Linked DNA regions of Homo sapiens. The protein of the gene in region 2 purifies or fractionates together with the protein of the main gene of each other region. This does not show direct contact. Each region holds a gene or a part of one and is shown on either strand. Other genes may lie near its edges. The genes, in order: SLC25A3, ASB10, ARL1, CPVL and AP1G1.

Region 1 (3,518 bases), on a different chromosome or scaffold from region 2:
AGGAATACAGTTATATCTATTATCTAGACAGTAGCTTTTAAAAAGTAGGAGGTGGGCCAAGCATGGTCGCCCACACCTGGAATGCCAGCATTTTGGGTAGCCGAAGCAGGTGGGTCACTTGAGGTCAGGAGTTCGAGATCAGAACTCAATCTAGCCAACATGGTGAAACCTCATCTCTGCTAAAAATACAAAAATTAGCTGGGCATGGTGGCGTGCCTGTAGTCGCAGCTACTCGGGAGGCTGAGGCAGGAGAATCGCTTGAACCTGGGAGGTGGAGGTTGCAGTGAGCTGAGATCACACCATGGCACTCCATCCTGGGCTACAGAGCAAGACTCAAAAAACAAACAAACAAAAAACACAAAAAAAGTAGTAGGAGTTGGGTGGTAAGAAATCTGTTAAGAATCAGTTTTGTTACGTATTTTTGTTGAAATTTTACCCTCTTAACTATCACTCCAAGACTTAAGTTTGACACAGAAAGCTTTTGTTGAAATTTTACCCTCTTAACTATCACTCCAAGACTTAGGTTTGACACAGAAAGCTAGACCTTAATGTACAACAGTTTCTATTTATAAAAGTAATCAAATGAACAATAATAAACAGTGATAAGCATAAACTAATAAAAGTTATATGAATGTAGTTCCTCACTCAAAATATCTTAATATTTTCAGATGTCAGTTGACCTTGGATAACTGAAGCCACAGAAAATGAACTCTTGGATAAGGGAGAGCTACTGTATTTCTTTTTTTTTTTTTGAGATGGAGTCTTGCTCTGCTGCCCAGGCTGGAGTGTAGTGGTGCCATCGTGGCTCACTGCAACCTCCACCTCCCTCCCTCAGGCTCAAGCGATTGTTCTGTCTCACCCTCACCCTCCCGAGTAGCTGGGATTACAGGTGCACGCCACCATGCCCGTCCAATTTTTTGTATTTTAGTAGAGATGGGGTTTCACTGTGTTGCCCAGGCTGGTCTTGAACTCCTGAGCTCAGGTAATCCACCTGCCTCAGCCTCCCAAAGTGCTGGGATTACAGATGTGAGCCACCGTGCCTGGCAGGAATTACTGTAGTTACCTTTTGTGTAGTTGCTGAAATTTATTATGGAACCCAAACAAAAATAATCATGAGATTAAATTTTTATGTTAGCTGTTTGGTGCATTTAATTTTTTTTTTCTTGTTTTAAATAAAGGTGGACCCCCAAAAGTACAAGGGCATATTTAACGGATTCTCAGTTACACTTAAAGAGGATGGTGTTCGTGGTTTGGCTAAAGGATGGGCTCCGACTTTCCTTGGCTACTCCATGCAGGGACTCTGCAAGTTTGGCTTTTATGAAGTCTTTAAAGTCTTGTATAGCAATATGCTTGGAGAGGTATGTAATTAACTTTAAAATTGAATGTTCCGAGTGTTTAAGACTTTCCGAGTGTTCTTAGATTTTTGTCTGTCTTGCCTTATTTTAGCACTGAAGAAAATGGTCCTACAAAGTGAGCAACTTGTTTTAAATCGTATGCCTGTGTCAGCAGAGACAGGTTGATAAATGTATTTCATTAAATTACAATTCTCCTTTTAATATACTATCTTGTTTTCTAAGTAAGTTGGATTTTGAGTTTTTTAGAGAAGGGCTCTGGGACTCCTTTGCGTAGTTCCGGGGCATGGCATCTAGATATTTTTTGAATATTCATGTTGTTCACATAGTTACGTGTTTTGTTAATGAGGTTATGAGACCACATATATATTCCATATCATCGTGTGTTACTTTATAAAATGTCTGAAGCTTAGTTGTTTTCTAGAACTGTCACTTCAATTGAAAACCAACACAACAGCAATTCACATCCCTTCCTTGTGTTTTGGATTTTAGGAGAATACTTATCTCTGGCGCACATCACTATATTTGGCTGCCTCTGCCAGTGCTGAATTCTTTGCTGACATTGCCCTGGCTCCTATGGAAGCTGCTAAGGTTCGAATTCAAACCCAGCCAGGTTATGCCAACACTTTGAGGGATGCAGCTCCCAAAATGTATAAGGAAGAAGGCCTAAAAGCGTAAGTAAACACTTAAAAATTTATACTATGAAAGTACTTATTTTAAGTGAACTTCATTTTTTTTTGTTTTTTTTTTTGTTTTGTTTTTTTGAGACAAAGTCTCGCTCTGTCACCCAGGCTGGAGTGCAGTGGCGTGATCTCGGCTCACTGCAAGCTCCGCCTCCCGGGTTCACGCCATTCTCCTGCCTCAGCCTCCCAAGTAGCTGGGACTACAGGCGCCTGCCACTGCGCCCAGCTAATTTTTTGTATTTTTCAGTATAGACGGAGTTTCACCGTCTCCATCTCCTGACCTCATGATCCGCCCACCTTGGCCTCCCAAAATGCTGGGATTACAGGTGTGAGCCACCGCACCCGGCTTCTTTTTTTTTTTTCTTTGAGACGGAGTTTTGCTCTTGTTGTCCAGGCTGGAGTGCAATGGCACTATCTCAGCTCACTGCAACCTCCGCCTCCCAGGTTCAAGTGATTGTCCTGCCTCAGCCTGCTGAATAGCTGGGATTACAGGCATGCACCACCACGCCTGGCTAATTTTGTATTTTTAGTAGAGACTCCATGTTGGTCAGGCTGGTCTCGAACTCCTGACCTCAGGTGATCCACCCGCCTCGGCCTCCCAAAGTGCTGGGATTACAGGCGTGAGACACCGCGTCTGGCTGTGAACTTCATTTTTTAGTATTAAGCCTACCAGACTTTTTAAAAAGACTATTATAACATTTAATGTCTATTTACCTGTATGTAGAACATAAACTTGAGAGGTAAAGATAAGTTAATACATGGTTTGAGCCCTGGACTGAGTTTTTTTTTTTTCCCTAGAGTAAGGACCATTTGTCGGTCTACAAATGACTTGATGTTTGGCCTAAACATTTACTATTAACTTTTAGGGAGGGCTTGTTAGTATCCTTGTGATCTATTCACAGTTAAGAATTTCCATGACCACAACATGCTTCCTTAGATCCACCTTTGTGGATGAATCTTGAACTGAGTTCCACTTGTAAACTTCTTGTTTCTTGTGGTTCCAGTAGTCAAAGAAACATCCAGCAACTTTTTTGGTTGTATAGTCAAAGGTGCTTGAGTCATTGGCATGTAAGAGAAATATACCTGCATGTTAGTCTAACGTTCTGATAGAAATGACATGCATTTATGCTGCCATTTGTTACTATCAGGACTCGACTCGTGTGCGGACATTTCTGTTAATAATGACAGTCTCTGATAGATGAGTGTATGCAACTGTGTAAAACAAGTCTCTTGATTTCCTAGATTCTACAAGGGGGTTGCTCCTCTCTGGATGAGACAGATACCATACACCATGATGAAGTTCGCCTGCTTTGAACGTACTGTTGAAGCACTGTACAAGTTTGTGGTTCCTAAGCCCCGCAGTGAATGTTCAAAGCCAGAGCAGCTGGTTGTAACATTTGTAGCAGGTTACATAGGTACGAATTACTTAGAACACACTTGTCTGAAATTATGAACAAATAATCATTTCCATTATTGGCGTTTT
Region 2 (4,184 bases):
GGGCTGGAGCACCTCAAGCCCATGGTGGGCAGTGGTGGGTCAGAGCTGAGCCCGAGGGCCTGGTTTCTCATCTTCTTTCTCTCTTTTTTTCCTTTTGATCCACCCGGCCCCCAAACAAAAGTCAGTGCCTGAGTACACAGAGACATTTCTCCTTTCTCACTCTCTAGTGAAGAGACCCCATGTAACCACAGCAGGGGAGAGATGCCACCCAAGGTCATCCAGGGAGATGGGGGGGTTGGCATCAAGGACGAGCATGGGGAGTTTCTGTGGCTTGCCTGTGGGTTACGCTCTGTTACTCAGGCACACGTCTGTCTAAGGGAGCCCCCTGAGGGGTGCCTCACACAGCGAGGGCAATCTGTGTCACTACTGTGAACTCCTCCCTTGGTTTGGGAGTGGGAAGGTGCAGGGCTAACAGATGACATTTGGAAGGGCAGGAAATATTATCTGGCACCCACAGGCCTTCCCAGTGGGATCAGAGCCCAGGCAGCTGGAGGCCGATTTGGTGAACAAGAAAGAGCTCAAGGCCCTGGGTTCCAGTCCTGGCTCTGCAACAAGCTCTCTGCGTGATCTTGGGAAATTCACTTCCCTTTAATGCCGAGATGACGGACTGGGCAGCATGGTCCGGGTGGTCCCTTTCCACCCTGAGGTCATACAGCCCTGGGGTGAAGCTCAGGGTTGGCGGGCTCAGGCCTCACTTGTTCTCCTGCCCCTCCCTAATTCCCCCACCCGGCCTGACTGACAGCTGGGCCAGTCAGGGCTATTTATGGCTTTGCCTGATGTTGTGCTCCCCTGCGCCTCCCATGCTGGGCCCCACCCAGCTCGGGCCCAGCACCCACCTGCCCAGTCCACCAGCAACATCGCTGGGAGTCGTGCTGCTTTGGCTCTCCCAGAACAAGCCATGCCCTGGGGAAAGAACTCCTCTCCCCACTGGGGACACCATCTGGGGTGCCTTCCCTCCGCCCCGGCCTGCCGGATCTGGAGGCCCCACTCCCGCCCAGCCTGGGAGCCCCCTCGGCCATCACCACTGCTCTGCCAAGACATGGCCCTGCAGAATGCCCTCTACACCGGGGACCTGGCAAGGTTGCAGGAGCTGTTCCCCCCGCACAGCACAGCCGACCTGCTGCTGGAGAGCCGGGCCGCAGAGCCTCGCTGGAGCAGCCACCAGAGGGGTGAGGGGCATCTGGGGGTTGCTGAGAACCAGGGGGCTGGGCTGACTGCCTCGGCCACAGAGGTCCTAAGGGCTTGAGTGAAAGGAGAAGCCCCCGGCTGTTTCTCCCCGACCTCAAAGCTTGCCCAATAGCCTACACCTTGGCCCAAGAACACAGTCATGTGGAGCCCAGAATAGCTCCTGCTGGATGCGTGGCCAGGTCAGCCTCGGAGCGTGGGACACAGGGGCCTTCTGTCTGTCTGTATTTCCCTCCTGCTCTCTCTCTCTCTCTCTGCCTTTGGCATATACCTCTCCTCCTCCCCACTCCCCTTTCCCTGCCCACATGCTCATGAGTTGGTCTCCAGAAGAGTGCAAGGGGCAGGGAGAGCCCCTCGATGACAGACACCCCCTCTGTGCCAGGCTGGTGGAGAAGCCCAGCAGAGGGTCTGAGGAGCACCTCAAGTCTGGCCCGGGACCCATCGTCACCCGCACAGCCTCAGGACCTGCCCTTGCCTTCTGGCAGGCAGTGCTGGCTGGGGACGTGGGCTGTGTCTCCCGCATCCTCGCGGACTCCAGTACTGGCCTGGCTCCTGATTCCGTCTTTGATACCAGCGACCCAGAGCGATGGAGGGATTTCCGCTTCAACATCCGTGCTCTGAGTACGGGCCGGGGCACTGGGGGCTCTCAGTGGGAGAGAGGGGAGGCTGCAGATGGAGCTCTGGGCTCCCTCTTCCTGCCTCTGCCCACCTCACCCCATTGGCTGGAAGGTCTCTGCCTTCCCTGGGGATCTGAGGCCCACGTCTCCCCTCCCTAGGACTCTGGTCTCTGACATACGAAGAGGAGCTGACCACCCCACTGCATGTGGCAGCCAGCCGTGGCCACACGGAAGTCCTGCGGCTGCTGCTGAGGCGGCGAGCAAGGCCAGACAGTGCCCCTGGGGGCCGCACCGCCCTGCACGAGGCCTGTGCTGCAGGCCACACTGCCTGTGTTCATGTGCTGCTGGTGGCAGGAGCCGACCCCAACATCGCTGACCAGGATGGGAAACGCCCCCTGCATCTCTGCCGGGGGCCTGGCACCCTTGAGTGAGTGACCCCTCACCCCAACCCCCAGTTCCACTCTGAAGGGAAGCAAAGAGGCCTTCTCAGGGAGGATGGGGGAAAATGTCAGGGACCTGGGACAGAGCAGTCCAGGCTTGGGGCGCGGGTCAGGGTGCAATTACTTCCCAAGCCATCCACCCGTTGACCCCATGAACTTTGGAGTGGCCTGGACTTTGGACAGTTTTCTGGTCTCCCAGGGGTGGAGGGAGGCTGTGGCAGGGGTGCAGTTGCATGGCCCGCATTGGGAAATTGCCTGGCTCCATTATGGGGAGGTGGTGTTGCTTAAAATTTTTGAAAACACTTTCTGAGCTTATCCTATGTTCCAGGCACTGTGCTAAGCACAACAGCAACTAAGTCCCTGAGGCCCTGCCCTCAGGGAGCTTACTGTCCAGTGATCCAGACAGGGAGTAGAGGATGGTGGCCCCAGTGAGGACCTGCCTGGGTCCCTCTGGGTAGGGTCTGGTTTTCCAAGACAGGTCTAGAATCTCCATATTGGTAGGGCACCCTCAGATCATGGGCTCAAGGGACTCTCACTAACTAAACTCCCAAGAAACTGATGAATACACCCAAATGTGCCAATGTATCATTTATTGTAGGGAATAGTCCTTTGCAGTGACATAAATAATTGCAACCCAAGTGTAAGGAACGTTGTAGGATGGGATCCCAATTACAATTTTGTGAACTAACTCTACATCCTATAGAGGCCCTCTCTCTACTGACTGCACACCTGCAGGTCTTGTCTCTTGCCTCTGAAAGGTGCCAAATTATTGACCCTGGGGTTCTCCTTTCATGGACCCTCTCCTTCTTGTTAATCTCATCAGCCTCTAGAGGATTCCACAGGCTTAATCATACTATGGTTGAAGATGTGTTCTTTACTAGCGTGGCCCAGTGGAAACCTAATGTGAGCCATATATGCAATTTACAGTGTTCTAGCAGCCCTATAAAAAAAATGACAAATGGCCGGGCACGGTGGCTCACACCTGTAATCCCAGCACTTTGGGAGGCTGAGGCAGGTGGCTTGCTTGAGGCCAGGAGTTCGAGACCAGCCTGGCCAACATGCCCAAACCTTGTCTCTACTAAAAATACAAAAATTAGCTGGGTGTGGTGGCAGGCGCCTGTAATCCCAGCGACTCGGGAGGCTGAGGCAGGAGAATTGCTTAAACCTGGGAGGTGGAGGTTGCAGTGAGCGGAGATTAGATTGCGCCACTGCACTCCAGCCTGGGAGACAAAGTGAGACTTTGTCTCACAAAAAAAAAAAAAAAAAGACAAATATGTAAAATTAATTTTCAAAATGGTGGTAAAATATACATGAAATTTGCCTTTGTAACCATTTTTTATTTATTTATTTATTTTTTGAGACGGAGTCTTGCTCTGCCGCCCAGGCTGGAGTGCAGTGGTGCGATCTCGGCTCACTGCAAGCTCCGCCTCCCGGGTTCACGCCATCCTCCTGCCTCAGCCTCGCGAGTAGCTGGGACTACAGGCCCCCGCCACCATGCCTGGCTAATTTTTTGTATTTTTAGTAGAGACGCGGTTTCACAGTGTTAGCCAGGATGGTCTCAATCTCCTGACCTCGTGTTCTGCCCGCCTCGGCCTCCCAAAGTGCTGGGATTCCAGGCACGAGCCACCGTGCCCGGCCTTTTGTAACCATTTTTAAGCGTACAGTTCGATGGCATTAAGCACATTCATGTTGTTGTTCAACCATCGCCACCATCCATCTCCAAACTTTCTCATCTTCCCAAACTGAAATTCTAACCCCATCAAACACTAACCACCCACCCCACCCTGTCTCCCAAGCCCCTGGCAATCACTATGTTACTTTCTGTCTCTGAATGTGAACACTCTGGGGACCTCACATAAGTGGAATCATGTGGTATTTGTCCTTTTGTAACTGGCTTATTCCACTTAGCATGATGTCTTCAGACTTCACCCATGTTGTCCCA
Region 3 (2,596 bases), on a different chromosome or scaffold from region 2:
TGTAATCCCAGCACTTTGGGAGGCCGAGGCGGGTGGATCATGAGGTCAGGAGTTCGAGACCAGTCTGAGTGACCAACATGGTGAAACCTCATCTCTACTAAAAATACAAAAATTAGCTGGGCGTGGCAGCGGGCACCTGTAGTCCCAGCTACTCAGGAGGCTGAGGCAGGAGAATCACTTGAACCCAGGATGCAGAGGCTGCAGTGAGCCAAGATTGCACGACTGCAACTTCAGCCTGAGCAACAGAGCGAGACACTGTCTTAAAAAAAGAAAAAAAAAAAAGAGACAGGGTCTCCCTCTGTCCCCTAGGCTGGAGTGCAGTGGCACAACCAAAGCTTGTTATAACCTTGAGCTCCTCTCTCTGCTTCCTTTTTTGTTTGTTTTTTAAAAAAATTTTTGTAGAGACCCCTGTGTTGCTCAGGCTGGTCTCCAACTCCTGGACTTAAGCGATCCTCCTGCCTCAGCCCATGTGCATTTCGAATACCCTAGTAATATATAATGAGATGCTATGTTTGGAAAAGTAAATAATTCCCAACTCTACAAAGGCTGCATTGAAGATGGAGACTTTTATACACTGTTGGTAGGGTAACCTTTCTGGAAAGCTGTTCATGCATGTATTCAGTTTATCAAAGCCTGAAAAAAACTGTTCATACTTTGACTCCATTTTTAGAATATTGTGTTAAGGAAACAGATTTAAACAGAAATTTTTGTATAAAGACCCTGTCACTTGGGTTTATCTAATAGTCTAGTGGAAAGACTCTAATAAGAGTCAGATACTAGAAAATAGTTAACACAGTTTATGGTGCATGCATCCATAGTGTAGAGCATATTTAGCCATTTTTTTATTTTGAAAAAGTTGTTGTAGTTTGGAGAAACATGATTTTAATTTTTAGGCAGGGTATGGAACTATATATAAATGTGATCTTAAATGTGTAAATGTATTTACTAAATAAACTCTGAAGTATCTGCAAAACAAAGTACTAGTAGAAAACACCTAAAATGTTAACAGTGATCATATTTGGGAGGTAGGATTATGAGTGAAGCTTCTTTTCTTTATACTTCTCTATATAATTTCTATATAATTTCATAATGTGTAATATATTAATTATAAAATACACGTTTAAAATGTATTTTTGGACATTTTCTAAACTCGAGAGAGCACATTAGTTAAAAGAAATTAAATATTTTCAATTTCATTTAGGAAGAAGAGCTGAGAAAAGCCATTTTAGTGGTGTTTGCAAATAAACAGGACATGGAACAGGCCATGACTTCCTCAGAGATGGCAAATTCACTTGGGTTACCTGCCTTGAAGGACCGAAAATGGCAGATATTCAAAACGTCAGCAACCAAAGGCACCGGCCTTGATGAGGCAATGGAATGGCAAGTATCATGCTTCCAGAAGCCATCTGTGCATTTGTGTGTGCTTGCAGCTATGCACGTCCACGTGTAATTTTTCTCCCGTGTTGAGGATGAAACTTTGATTTACTTAGCAGCTTATTTCATAAGTTCCTCAAGCGTTTTCTCTCACTGGTCTTCAGGTGCATCTGTCTTCTCAACCACACCTACCTGATTACAGTTACTTAGATAAGCAAATTCTTTGCCAATTTTTAGCCTTTTCCCTGCCTCACCTCACCCTCCAATTCCTTATCCTTCAGGAATTAGCTTAAGACTCTCTTCTGAAGAGCTTTTCCTAATGTATCTCTATTCCTACTGCCTAATCACTCACTTAAAGTTAGATGCCCTTGTCACAGATTAGTGACATAGTACTTGTTTTGCTGTCTTGTAAGTTTGATTTGTTCATCTACTCATTAGATAATCACCTCCTTGAGGATTGAGACTAGTTTCACCTCTGAGTCATCCATATGTAGCCCAGAAGTAGTAGTAGCCTGGAAAATAGGTATTTGGTCTTTTTTGAATTTTTCATTCAAATCATAGACAAATTCAAAGCTTAGAGGAACCTTATGGATATCTAGTGCATAACCTCATCTGTGTTAGCTGTCATCATTTTAAGTACTTTGGAATCCACCTCCAATACAAAGTTTATTATAGATGATCATGCTTTATACCTGAAAATTAATTTTATAAAACAGTTCATTTTCTCTTTACAGGTTAGTTGAAACATTAAAAAGCAGACAGTAATTCAGTCCATTCTTCTCCCCTGAAATGAAGACTACATCACCTCTCTCCCTTTGGAAACAGTCAAGTGTACTTCACACTACTAGATGTTAAAACTATATGATTATTGGCATATACTGACTGACTGCAATATTTGTAGTAAATAGGGAAAATAAGTATTTAGTTGGAGGGATAATTTGATCGAATCACCTGAATGTTCTATGTAATGTAAAATATTCTTTTCTTGCTTTCTTGTGTTAAGGTATATATTCTATTTGTATGGAATTCTTATTCAAATACAGTTCTATTAAAGAGTATACTCCTATTGGATGAAAAAAACCTATTTTTGAATAGTAGTTGCAGCTTGTTTGTATAAATACTAAAAAATATCTTAACAGATTTTTTTCCCCTTAAAATGAATTATCTTTCCAAAGATTAGACTCAGTATGAGAGTAGGTGAGGAACATAGTTTGTGTAATAT
Region 4 (3,518 bases), about 120 Mb from region 2:
CAACAAGAAATGTAGAACGTGAAATAAAGATGAAGCCATTCTGAGTCATGTGCAGACCGTGGGAAATATCTCCCTGTATTTGACAAAAGGGGAAATGGCAGCCATAGCTAATTCTGAAGATGAAAAGTGTTCCTGCCTGGGTTACTTGATGAAGAATATTATTAGCAATCAGCAAGTCAAGTGGAAATAATTTGTTTTGTTTTGTTTTCTCCCCTTCTAACTATTGGCATGTTGGTAGAATTAACTTGGCTGGCAGGAGAATGAACCGCCTGTGCCGTTGGGACACAGGAGATTTCTGAGCTGGCAGACTGCACACTCCATGTAAAACCATGACTCTTTCCACCATTCTTGTGTACACGTGTGCCTGAACATTGGTGTCTGCAAAATCCGAGACGTCTGTTTCAGAGAAAAATTGCTGGAAGCCACTGATTTAGAATTTTAATAGGATTTTTAAAAAATCTGTGCTTAAAAAACATGTAATTTAATCAGTGTTGTAGCCCCCCTGCCCCCCCAAGAATAGCCTTTCTTAGGTTTCTTAGGTTGTCTTACGAACACTGACAGAAATGTGTAGGTTCAGGGCACCTAGAGCAGATGTGGAAGTTCTTTCATTAAGGTAGCCTGCGTGAATCATCCCTGTGACTCAAAGCCTGAAGCAGTTTTAGCCTGATCTCCTTGGCTGCATTTTTAGAATCTTAGACATTCCAAGCTGAAAGGGATTTTGGGAATTATATAGTCCATCTAATCTCCAGAATTTACAAATGAAGGAACTGAAGTCCAAGGGGAGAAGTGAATTGGCTTGCCCAAGGATATACCTGTTGGCAAAGTGAAGGCTGGAACTTTTGACCTTGTACATTCAGGAATTGTGGCAGAGCCTTTCCTGCTCGTCTTAGAATGTAATGTACTATAGGGAGCCCGCAGCCATCCTCTACGGTCTGGCTTTATTGTCTCTTTTCTCCCTATTTTTTAGTCTCCTTCTACCTTTTCTCAGCACACCTTTCAAGTGGGATGGAAGTTGAAACCCACTCAGCAGAGAATATGAGAAATACATGTGTAATGACACAAAGTTAGGTGTGTTAGCATTATGTCCAGCAAAGGAGGACACATACCCAAAGGTTGGGAGAAGTGGGAAGAGGCCTCTGAAATATTTGGCCTTGTGCTGAATGAGTCGAAGGAGGGATCAGGGAAGAGGTACCCGCTGGATTAGCTGCTGCCAAGTGCCCGTGGCAGCTCAGGAACTTAGACTCTCAGCAGTCTCTGTTCAGGAGATGGGAGGGACAAAGCGCTATCATTGGTAAGAATACAGCAGTTGCTCAGAAAAAAGGACTGTCCATCATACTGCAGCTGCAGAGTGGCCTTGGGTATATAGAAACATTGTTAATGTTCTGTTGGGAGCATCTTAGACTGATTAGCAGCAGAGCTGATTTTCACTCCCAGGGATCTGGGTCTCTCTCTTTCTCGGTTAATGGCACCACTGTCCACCCACCCAGCCATCTAAGTCACATCTGGGATCATCCTAGATTCTTTGTTCTATTTCAACTCTAATATATAATCACAAGTTTCTTCCAGTTTTACTTTCTTCTTCTTCTTCTTATTATTATTATTTGGAGACGTAGTCTCGCTCTTTTGCCCAGGCTGGAGTGCAGCAGCGTGGTCTTGGATCACTGCAACCTCTGCCTCCGGTGTTCAAGTGATCCTCCCACCTCAGCCTCCTGAATAGCTGGGATTACAGGCACATACCACCAAGCCTGGCTAATTTTTGTATTTTTTTGTAGAGACAGGGTTTTGTCATGTTGGCCAGGCTGGTCTGGAACTCCTGACCTCTGGTGATCTTACCCACCTTGGCCTCCCAAAGTGCTGGGATTACAGGCGTGAGCCACTGCTCCCAGTCAACCTTCTAATTATTTTTAAGTCTGCCCTCTCCACGCTATTATTACTAGTTTCCAGCCCTAGTTCAAACTCCTGTCATCTTTATTCTAGATTATTGTGAAACATATTAACTGGCCTTCCTGCCTGCTGTCTTTCTGGCTTAAGTCCATCCTTACATTGATGTTCATAGTACTCTTTTCAAATTATCAAGCCCTTCAGTAGTTCCTAGTCACTAGAGGATAAAGATTCTTAGCATATCTAGAAAACTCTCCCTGATCAGCTCTCTACTGACTTCTCTAGATTCCATCCTATTTCTCCACTTCCTACTTATGCTTTTCTCCTGCCTCTGTATTGGTTATCTATTGCTGCATAACAAATTTTTAAATGCTATAAATTCTATGACCTCCCAAAATAGTGATATAGGCGTTAAGAAGAAATTATTTGGGCAGATAGTGAGAGTACAGGAGTCCTCGGTAAGGTTTTCCTTTTAATGAAAAGCAGACCCCAAATCATTTTCTTTTCTAACAAAGAGCAGCCTGCCTATAAAATTGAGCTACACACATAGACAAGTAAGCTGGAAGCTTGCACAGGTGAATGCCGGCAGTTGTGCCAATAGGAAAAGGCTACCTGGGCTAGGCATGTTCAAAATGGCAGCTCCGTCTTCCCTTTTCCTTTCCAACCATGTGTACAGTAGGGAACAGACAGTAATGCTGGCCAAGTGGAAAGCCCATTTGCTTAATAAGGTTAGGGTGAGGTGGCCAGCTTCCCTGCATGCTATGTAAATGTCACACCTGGTCCAGCCAATCTGTGGGCCAATCTTTGTCTATATAAATCAGACACCACCTCCTCAAGCCTGTCTATAAAATCTGGTGCACTCCACGGAGGGCCAGATTTCCCATTCAGATGCCCCTCTCTTGCAAGAGAGAGAAGTGTTCTCCTTTCTCTTTCTTTTGCCTACTAAACCTCTGCTCCTAAACTCACTCCTTGTGCGTGTCCATGTCCTTAATCTTGGCATGAGATGGCGAACCCCAGGTATTTACCCCAGACAGTGATGCCACCTCAATAGGAGAGACAGCAGCACATGAGGGAAGTATAGAGGGATTCATTTAATTAGGAGTTAAAGTCAAGGTTGGAAACTAGTTTGGAGGTTTGCAGTAGTCCAGGCAAGTCACAATAAAGAACTGGATTAGGCCATGAGAGTAGATTTAGAGAGGTGAAGGTGAATTTGAAGAACATCTAGGAGATTCAGTTGGTGATTGATTGGCTGTGGGAATGCAGGGCCAGAGAAAAATGGATAAATAAAGAATACATCCTGGATTTCTGGCTTTAGTACTTGAGTTGATGGGAGTATTTCCAACCAAGATGAAAAATAGGGAAGTAAGGACAAGTTTAGGGAAGGAGATAATAAGTTTAGTTTTTGAGTTCTTCTTAACTACTTTTGATTTTTGTCAATATAATAAAAGTAATGTTATAATTCTCATGATAAAAAATTTTAGTCTTCTTCTCCCCACCTCCCCATCCTTCTCTTATCTCTGAGACCTCCTCTCATACTTTTACCTGTCTGTTCTAGCCTTTAATTCCAAATTTCCAAGTAATCTGCCTAATCTGTTTCTTGATTTATTGGTTTTAGGGTTACACCTTTTATTTGAGGT
Region 5 (3,518 bases), on a different chromosome or scaffold from region 2:
TTGAGAGTGAATCTTCACTCTTGCAACTTTTGGCCCTAGAGAAGACTAGTGTCTCTCTCTCTCAAATATTTTAGAAGTTTAATCTACTTTTAGGAAAGATTTTCAAATGCTAGTTCATACAATAGCTACGTAGTACAGTATGGTTTACCTAGCTTGCCCTATATAGCACTTTTTTTTTTTTTTTGAGACGGAGTCTTGCTCTGTTGCCCAGGCTGGAGTGCAGTGGCACAGTCTCGGCTCACCACAACCTCCTGGGTTCAAGCGATTCTCCTGCCTCAGCCTCCCGAGTAGCTGGGACTACAGGCATGTGCCACCATGCCCAGCTAATTTTTGTATTTTTAGTAGAGACGGGGTTTCACTGTGTTGGCCAGGCTGGTCTCGAACTCCTGACCTCGTGATCCGCTCGCCTTGACCTCCCAAAGTGCTGGGATTACAGGCTTGAGCCACCACACCCAGCCAGCACTTTCAACTCTTATTTCTATAAGCAAGCAAATAAACCCCACCAGCATTCAACAAATTAATACTGTTTGGCTTATCTAGGTCTTTTGCTGTATAGGCTGGTTCTGCAAGTCTTTCCGTTCCTTCTGTCATGTGGAGAGGAGGCTCTGACACATTATAGATTATGCAGGCTTTAAAAAACAAAAGTTCAAGTCTCTGCATCCCAGTTATCCAATCACACAAAAGCCTAAAAGCTTATAGTTGGTGACCAGTATGTTGGTTTGCTATTTTTGGGAAGCTTTTCTTTTCATTTCTTTCTGGCTGTTTTTTAAGCCAAAAGCACCGATATTTTACTTGCATAGTTGATCAGTTACCATTAAGTGAAGTTGCCAGAAGAAGAATTGGTCAGCTTTTGAAAAGAGGTAGGCTAGAATTCCTTCTGCCAGAAAGGAGAATGTGGTTTATTACTAGTTGTCATGATCAAAGAACCGAACAGTGGATTTTTACAAATACCACAGGGAGTCAACTCACGTGCTGTGAATTCCTGATATCTAGAAAACAAGTAGTAGGCAAAACTTAGTAGTAGTGAAATCTGTTGCTTGACCCATCATCTGGGTGTCTAAATGGTTTTTGGTATCTCTGACCTAGCGTTGTGTAATTCTTTTTCTGAAGAGTGCCCTTTGTTCCCCCCTAGACATTCCAGCTGCAGCTCTTGTCTCCTAGCAGCAGCATTGTCCCAGCATTTAACACGGGGACCATCACACAAGTCATTAAAGTTCTGAACCCTCAGAAGGTGAGTAGCACATTTGTAGCCAATATCTGAGCCGAAGTGTAAGCATATTTCCCGAAATAAAATTCTGCTTTGTTTCTTTAGGTTTTTCTGACTCATAGTTAGAGAAGAGATCAATGAAAATGCCTGGTCTAACTTCCTTGCTCTTTTGTAAATAACAAATGGAACCCAGAGACATCAGGTGGCTTAGTGGCATCTTATTAAAATGCAACTTCAAAAAAAGCTAGATTAAAGGTCTGGTTTTTGGGGGTAGGGGAGAAGCTTAGACATTTTAATTTATACACAAGTTGAAATCTGAGGTAAGAGCATTTGTTGAAACCAAATACCTACATTTACTGCTACAGTTATTAAGTATGAATAGAAAAATAGAGGCATTTTAAATGAAGCAGCCAAATGAAAAATAGCTTTAGAAACTGAAATTAAGCAATATTTTTATTATCTCTTCTCAAAGAAATAAGCTCACCTTAATAGTAATCAGTTGGTTTTCAGTTTTTGAAAATGGTTCAGAGAATTTCTTTAATAGAGCTCTACTAGTTGCTCATAAGTAACAGTATACTTTCTTTCTCTTGTAACACTTGCCTTTCCTCTGCTATTCACTATATTTTGAGCATCGGCCTCTATAGTACAAGCACAAACTCCTTTGACCATCTGATACAGAGAGTAAAAAATGTCTTAGTGCATTTGTATTTGAAATCTGCCATACAAAAAGTGTCTAATTGAGTTCTCTTAAAACTACTGCTGTTACCTGTGAGTTAAGTCATTTTTTAAAATTTTATGCTTTAGGAACAAAAGGTCATGTTCACATTTACTGTAGGTTTTTCAGATAAAGCAACAGTGTATCTGAATGGAGAGCGTACGATGAGTATATGTTCACCTCATTTTTTAAGAGACTTGGATACAAGGTTTGAATCTTTTTGAAAAGGACTCAGCAAAATGTTACTAGGAGAATGCTCCATGGTGGCTCACGCCTGTAATGCCAGCATTTTAGGAGGCTGAGGTGGGTGTATTATCTGAGGTCAGGAGTTGAAGACCAGCCTGGCCAACATGGTGAAACCCCGTCTCTACTAAAAATAAAAATATTAGTCTGGTGTGGCGGTGAGCCAAGATTGTGCCACTGCACTCCAGCCTGGGCAATAAGAACAAAACCCTGTTTCAAAAGAAAAGAAAAGAAAAAATGCTCCCAAGGAGTTCTGTCCTTTTAATGCAGTTCAAGGATTAAAGCTAACCGTGTATTCTGCAGATGCGCTTTCTCAACTTGGTGGCATGACATTGTTAGCTTCTTGGCTCAAGCCTAGAGTACTGGGTGTTTTTTGTTGTTGTTTACCTGTCATTCTTAACAGACAGCTTTGCTTTAAGTTTTGACCTCTAAGATTAAAAGTCTATTTGTGGACCGGACAGATTCTGGAGATTTCATTTCAGTATATAATTTGCACTTCTCTTTTCCTCTTATAGCAACAGCTGCGAATGCGGATCAAGCTTACATATAATCACAAGGGCTCAGCAATGCAAGATCTAGCAGAGGTGAACAACTTTCCCCCTCAGTCCTGGCAATGAGGGTTTGGCACCATTCTCATTCTTTATCCCACTCAATCAAAGGAACTCTGGGAAGGAGGTTGTGATTGCTGGCAAGTCCCCCCCAACTGTACCACGGGCATGAGGAGCTGAAGAGAACTGCTGAGGAGGATTTTCCTAAAGTTACTGCTGACCTTGAAGCATTGTTAAAGACTAATGTCCTCTCCTCCACTGTTGAGGCTGGCTGCTTCTGGAGGCTACTTTGCACTCTTCCTCTTCTCCTTTTTCCGCACTTCTCCACCCCTCCCACATTTACAGCCAGAATCAACATTCCCTGGGCCCCTGAGGAAATAAGCAGCTGGTCTGGAGGAGAGGACTGCAATCCATGGCGAAAAAACACTCACTTTGTCTCTGCAGCAAAGAGTTGCCCCTTCTTTCTACTGTTGTTTCTCTGTGGACTGGGCAAGGTGGGGTATTTATTCCTCACTAGCTGGGTTACCATCTTCAGGCACTTTTAACATCTGGCATTCGGAATGGAAATGTAATAATGGACATTAGGGAGCCCTGCCTTTTTCTACTGGTTCCCCCAATGTTTGAAAGAGGCATTAGGCTCCTGGTAGCCTTTTCTGTGCATTGCTGTATACACACAGACACACACATGTATGTTTGTTACCAAGAACTGGTCAGACCTTGCGAGTTTATTTGTAAACACTGGACAGATGGAGTTAAAAAGAGCTTTTGTTGAGATTTGGCATGAAGGATATGGTGCTCTATTTGT

The links.
Region 1: the proteins of ASB10 (region 2) and SLC25A3 purify together in Homo sapiens (affinity purification with mass spectrometry, with the first as the bait; one large-scale study listed by BioGRID). This does not show direct contact.
Region 3: the proteins of ASB10 (region 2) and ARL1 purify together in Homo sapiens (affinity purification with mass spectrometry, with the first as the bait; one large-scale study listed by BioGRID). This does not show direct contact.
Region 4: the proteins of ASB10 (region 2) and CPVL purify together in Homo sapiens (affinity purification with mass spectrometry, with the first as the bait; one large-scale study listed by BioGRID). This does not show direct contact.
Region 5: the proteins of ASB10 (region 2) and AP1G1 purify together in Homo sapiens (affinity purification with mass spectrometry, with the first as the bait; one large-scale study listed by BioGRID). This does not show direct contact.

Annotation. Positions count from the first base shown.
Region 1 is NC_000012.12:98,596,678-98,600,195, forward strand, and holds part of SLC25A3 (solute carrier family 25 member 3 isoform b precursor), read left to right. Parts: intron 1-1,178; coding exon 1,179-1,358; intron 1,359-1,844; coding exon 1,845-2,026; intron 2,027-2,957; exon of another isoform or gene 2,958-3,207; intron 3,208-3,277; coding exon 3,278-3,450; intron 3,451-3,518. UniProt on the Homo sapiens protein: Inorganic ion transporter that transports phosphate or copper ions across the mitochondrial inner membrane into the matrix compartment. Mediates proton-coupled symport of phosphate ions necessary for mitochondrial oxidative phosphorylation of ADP to ATP.
Region 2 is NC_000007.14:151,184,437-151,188,620, reverse strand, and holds the start of ASB10 (ankyrin repeat and SOCS box protein 10), read left to right. Parts: upstream 1-1,370; 5' UTR 1,371-1,490; coding exon 1,491-1,806; intron 1,807-1,961; coding exon 1,962-2,229; intron 2,230-4,184. UniProt on the Homo sapiens protein: May be a substrate-recognition component of a SCF-like ECS (Elongin-Cullin-SOCS-box protein) E3 ubiquitin-protein ligase complex which mediates the ubiquitination and subsequent proteasomal degradation of target proteins.
Region 3 is NC_000012.12:101,395,183-101,397,778, reverse strand, and holds part of ARL1 (ADP-ribosylation factor-like protein 1), read left to right. Parts: intron 1-1,201; coding exon 1,202-1,380; intron 1,381-2,108; coding exon 2,109-2,139; 3' UTR 2,140-2,596. UniProt on the Homo sapiens protein: GTP-binding protein that recruits several effectors, such as golgins, arfaptins and Arf-GEFs to the trans-Golgi network, and modulates their functions at the Golgi complex.
Region 4 is NC_000007.14:29,136,526-29,140,043, reverse strand, and holds part of CPVL (probable serine carboxypeptidase CPVL isoform b precursor), read left to right. Parts: intron 1-3,518. UniProt on the Homo sapiens protein: May be involved in the digestion of phagocytosed particles in the lysosome, participation in an inflammatory protease cascade, and trimming of peptides for antigen presentation.
Region 5 is NC_000016.10:71,732,322-71,735,839, reverse strand, and holds part of AP1G1 (AP-1 complex subunit gamma-1), read left to right. Parts: intron 1-1,132; coding exon 1,133-1,231; intron 1,232-2,680; coding exon 2,681-2,782; 3' UTR 2,783-3,518. UniProt on the Homo sapiens protein: Subunit of clathrin-associated adaptor protein complex 1 that plays a role in protein sorting in the late-Golgi/trans-Golgi network (TGN) and/or endosomes.